2 separate regions of the Homo sapiens genome follow, and region 2 is linked to region 1. The links come from fine-mapping of genetic effects on gene expression. Tissue or cell type: esophagus muscle. Region 1 holds a variant in brackets; the other region holds the start of a gene. All regions are shown on one strand. Distances are between the middles of the regions.

Region 1 (2,760 bases):
CCTAGTGATCTATTTGTCTATTCCTGTGCCAGTAGCACAGTTTTAATTACTCTCATGTTTTGTTTTTGTTTTTGAGACAGGGGCTAACTTTGTCACCCAGGCGGCAGTGCAGTGGCACGATCTCGGCTCACTGCAACCTCCACTTCCCGGGTTCAAGCGATCCTCCCACCTCAGCCTCCTGAATAGCTAGCTAGCTGGGACTGCATGTGTCCCATGCCCAGCTAATTTTTTCTATTTTTAGTAGAGATGGGGTTTTGCCATGTTTCCCAGGCTGATCTTGAACTCCTGGGCTCAAGTGATCTGCCCGCCTTGGCCTCCCAAAGTGCTGGGATTATAGGTGTGAGCCCCTACACCTGGCCTACTATCATGTTTTAATAAAACCTTTGAGAGCTACTTAAGACAACTTTGTCTTCTCCCCATTGTTCTTTTAAAAAAAATCTTATGGCTGTTCTTGCAGTTACTCCCCTGTGAACTTTAGAATCTGTTTGGTTCTATAAACAACTAACCCCCGTTGATGTTCTTATTAGAATAACACTGAATTTACAATGCAGGGTCCTAGATTCAATCCAAAGACGTACTCTCTGGTCAGGGATTTTAAGTAACAAAAAGAGCAACACTATCTAAAGACCTAAGGTTGTGTTGTGGTGGTGAGTATTATTTAGAGAGAGGCTTAGGCTTAGGCTTTTTGCTCAGCCTGGGTGTATCTAGGAACCTAACTCTGCCTTGGAGATCTATACTTACCCTATTCTTCCCTAAAATAGGAAATAATGAACTTCCTCGATGCCTTTCTATTCTCTCAGCCAGTTTGGTTAAAGTGACTTTGGGCTCAGTTTGTACAACCACTATGAATTTTTAAATAGAATGTAGCAAAAGCACCTAACCTTAGGTGTATATTATAACCTTGAAGTAGCCTTTTCTCACTATCAAACTACAGGCAGAGGAAACATTTAATTTTGATAGTAATTAATCACTTTCTATTTCAGAGGAATTCTTCAGTTGGATAAAGTGGACGTCATACCTGTGACAGCTATCAACTTATATCCAGATGGTCCAGAGAAAAGAGCTGAAAACCTTGAAGATAAAACATGTATTTAAAACGCCATCTCATATCATGGACTCCGAAGTAGCCTGTTGCCTCCAAATTTGCCACTTGAATATAATTTTCTTTAAATCGTTAAGAATCAGTTTATACACTAGAGAAATTGCTAAACTCTAAGACTGCCTGAAAATTGACCTTTACAGTGCCAAGTTAAAGTTTACCTTATTCTCGGCCGGGTGCAGTGGCTCATGCCTGTAATCCCAGGACTTTGGGAGGCCAATGCGGGCGGATCACGAGGTCAGATCAAGACCATCCTGCCAACA[T/C]GGTGAAACCCTGTCTCTACTAAAAAAAATAAAAAAATTAGCTGGGTGTGGCGGTGCACGCCTGTAGTCCCAGCTACTTGGGAGGCTGAGGCAGGAGAATTGCTTGAACCCGGGAGGCGGAGGCTGCAGTGAGCCAAGATCACGCCACTGCACTCCAGCCTGGGTGACAGAGCGAGACTCTGTTTCAAAAAAAAAAAAGTTGACCTTATTCTCTAAAAGGGCTGGCTATTCATATGATGAATTGTTAAGGAAAACTTAAAGTGGAAGAGAACACATGTGAAGAGACTTTGAAATTATCAAAAGAAAAAAAAAAGACCAGACAAAATCTCATGTGCCAATAACTTTTCAAGGTGCCTTTGTTAAGGAAATTATATCCACTTAATTACTATAATATATAAGACTTTATGAAAAGCACTTTATAAAATTCTAATTTAAAAGGTCAAGAACTTAACACTTATTTTTTTATTCAGTACAGTGTGCCTTTATATTAAGTATGTGACTCAGTATAAAATCACTGAAGTGTATCATGATTTGATTGTATCCTGTACCAAGACTACTTACCTTGAATGCTCCAAGATTTAAAAGTAGTATGACATGTTCTCACTCTAAAATAAACTTTTTTTTTTTTTTTTTGAGGAAAAAAGTATAGCTGTTTTGGTTACACTGATATAAAACCTTTGCCCAGGTAAGAATGGCTGAGATGCAGGAGTAGGTATACTTTCATTTACACTGGCTGAAACCATGGCTCAAATTGAATGAGTCCATTGATGTCATGAATTAGACTGTGCCCTTGGTCTTGTGGTTCTAGATATAGTGCTGTTTACCCTAAAAGTGTTTTATTACCTTTTTTAACCATCACTCATATTGACATATTAATATTTTACAATGTGAACGAGTACATATAACTCATCTCTATGTGATACTTTTTTGAGATGGAGTCTGGCTCTGTCGCCTAGGCTGGAGTGCAGTGGCGCAATCTCGGCTCACTGCAAGCTCCGTCTCCCGAGTTCATGCCATTCTCCTGCCTCAGCCTCCCGAGTAGCTGGGACTACAGGCGCCCGCTACTATGCCCGGCTAATTTTTTGTATTTTTAGTAGAGATGGGGTTTCACCATGTTAGCCAGGATGGTCTCGATCTCCTGACCTTGTGATCTGCCTGCCTTGGCCTCCCAAAGTGCTGGGATTACAGGCATGAGCCACCGCGCCTGGCCCTCTATGTGATACTTTCTGTTGTTTCATTAAAAAATATTTTTACTGGCCGGGCACAGTGGCTCATGCCTGTAATCCCAGCACTTTGGGAGGCCGAGGTGGGCAGATCACGAGGTCAGGAGATCGAGACCATCCTGGCCAACACGGTGAAACCTCGTCTCTACTAAAAAAAAAAAAAATACAAAAAATT
Region 2 (2,630 bases), 25 kb before region 1:
ATTCTCCTGCCTCAGCCTCCCTAGTAGCTGGAATTACAGGTGCGTGCCAGTATGCCTGGATAATTTTTGTATTTTTAGTAGAGATGGGGTTTCACCATGTTGGCCAGGCTATTCTCGAACTCCTGACCTCAAGTGATCCACCCGCCTCGGCCTCCTAAAGTGTTGGGATTACAGGCGTGAGCCACTGCACCCGGCTTCTAGATTCCTTTTTTTTTTTTTTTTTTTAATAGACTCAGGCGATCCTCCTGCCTGCGTTTGCTGCATAGCTGGGAGTACAGGCACAAATGACCACGCCCATCTCCAAATTCATTTTTAATTCCAGCAGTAGGAAAAAAAGGAAAAGGCCAAGTTTGCAGATGGAACCCAGAAGTGTGTGGGGCTTCGCTGTGAAATCACTTGTAGCTTAACAATGGCGTGGGGAATCTCAGAGTAAGCCCGGAGTTAGTTGAAAGGAGTCTTTAGCCAAAACGTTTATAATTTATTCTGGGGCGGGGCCGGGGGAGGGGGCGGTGGCGGTCAGCAGGCCTGTGGGAGGAGGGTGTTCAAAGGAGTAAAGGGGGCTCAAAGAGAGAAATAGATTCTTGTTTCCTTTTTCATGTCAAAAGTTTTATTTCATGTCAAAAGTTTTATTTCAAAGGAAGACTAAATATTACTCTTATTCTGCCTGAATGGCCAAGTTTCCAAGTTTTTCTCAATCAACATGCAATCCTGTTAATCTAAAATGCTTGAATTTCTTGCTACTCTGCTTTACAGGGTTCCGTAACTTTTTTTTTTTTTTAAATCTGCAAGGTGGAAGAAAAGTCTAACACTTTCACTTTAGAGTTACGATACTGACCAAAAAGGCACTGACAGCCCAGGTGCGCTGGCTTCCTTCCAGCTGAGCGCTGTCCCCGCGCCGCCTCCAGGGGTCGGCAGAATGCTGAACAGTAAGCATGGCGCATCCTCAACCTTGGCCCCACAATGAATCACCCGAGAAAATTAAAAAACCACCAGGGCCCGAGCCGCAGCCCAGGCTGGAAAGTGGGGTGTTCAGGAAGACCCCAGTACTTTTTAAAGCTGCCCGGGAGAGTCCCACGTGCAGCCAAGGGTGGGGAATTACCCACTTAATAAAAACTTCCCCTGTAAATGCGATGTTTCATTTTTAATGTATAACAGTTTTCTGAAATATTACCGTTGTTTTCATCGTATAGGTACATGTACATGTGCACACACAGACACATGCATGTGTGTAAATACTAATTTTAAAAATAATGGTTACGAGGACATTTACATCGCTCCAGTTGGAGTCCTGTCCAATCCTGAGGGCGGGTCTAATGAGGGGCCGTACCTTCCAAGATTTCACTCCGCCCCTCGACGCCGCGCGGCGCTGCGCGTGCGCAAACGCCTTTCCCTGGCGAGCCGGATCTCGGAGCGTCCCCGCGCCTCTCCGCGGCCGCCCGGGGAGGGGAGGGCCCGTCCCGCCCCTCCCCGTCTCTCCCCGCCCCTCCCCGTCCCTCCCGCCGAAGCTCCGTCCCGCCCGCGGGCCGGCTCCGCCCTCACCTCCCGGCCGCGGCTGCCCTCTGCCCGGGTTGTCCAAGATGGAGGGCGCTCCACCGGGGTCGCTCGCCCTCCGGCTCCTGCTGTTCGTGGCGCTACCCGCCTCCGGCTGGCTGACGACGGGCGCCCCCGAGCCGCCGCCGCTGTCCGGAGCCCCACAGGTAGGGCAGGGCGGGCCTGGCTGGCCGCTTTACGACTCCGACTCTCCGGGAGGCCCGGGCTGTCCACAGTGACGCTTCCCACATCCCACCGGCGGGCAGGGGCGGGGGTCCGGGCCCCCGAAGGAGGTGTGGGGAGAAGCACCCCAGGAAATGGGGGCGGCGTGGGAGGCCGAGGTAAGAGGAAAGGGACCCACTGGGGCTGCGTCGCTGTGAGTGAGCCTCGAGCCACTCCACACCGACTCTCCGGCGGCCCAAGCCGGCGCGCGACCTGACGGGGCTTTGCCGTCGAAGCGCGCGGTTGCCGGTGATCAGGCCTTCGTAATGGCGCCTTCCCGGGGTAGAGCCAGCGCTTGGGCAAGGAATGTTTGTGTGCTCGGGAAGTGTGGAAGTTGCCCACTTCGCGCATTTCCAGGCCACTTGTGCCTGCTCGGCCTGCGATCGCGAGGGTCCGCCGTTCCGAGGCTGCGGGGCTCCGCCGGGCTCAGGTGGGCAGAGGGAGAGACCTGGCCCTCGCGCGACGTAATGTTTTTGTCGGATGTTGGAGGAGAAGTTCTCACGGCGGGGCGCGATCGGCGGTGTCCGCATCCCCTGGGGACTCAGCCCGGCCTCTGGGGGCGGGGCCCAGCAGTCCGGGTTGGAGAGTCCTGCAGGTGCTTCTGATGCCAGCTGAGGTGGGAGAATCGAGGCATCCTAACATTAAAACGTGGCTGATGCTCACCATTCCTGCCGTAGAGTCGTGCCTACCTAGGCCAGTATCAGCCTTTTTTCAGTAGAATGGTAGGGAAAAGTTTGAATATTTTAAAGAGCAAGTGTTCTGAGAATGACAAGAAACTATGTCGGTACACCTCTTCCTAGTCAAGACTTGAATATGAACACTCTAAATACAAAGGCGAAGGGCACGGTAAGTGTCACTTTGACCAACAAGGTGAAACC

What was found. PIP is the estimated chance that this variant, and not a neighbour inherited with it, causes the effect.
Region 2: GINM1 starts here. The variant in region 1 is fine-mapped to the expression of GINM1 in esophagus muscle (GTEx, PIP 0.96).

The regions. Positions count from the first base shown.
Region 1 is chr6:149,589,744-149,592,503 of GRCh38, forward strand. It overlaps GINM1 (glycosylated integral membrane protein 1), which reads left to right. Exons shown (of 8, transcript NM_138785.5): 8 at 984-2,005. The coding sequence ends at 1,095. Among named protein-coding and RNA genes, the nearest start is that of GINM1, 25 kb to the left of the region's middle. The variant T/C (reference allele first, on the strand shown) is at 1,363.
Region 2 is chr6:149,564,838-149,567,467 of GRCh38, forward strand. GINM1 (glycosylated integral membrane protein 1) reads left to right here and starts at 1,538. Exons shown (of 8, transcript NM_138785.5): 1 at 1,538-1,697. The coding sequence starts at 1,578. RefSeq lists enhancers at 705-834, 2,085-2,134 and a silencer at 1,265-1,814.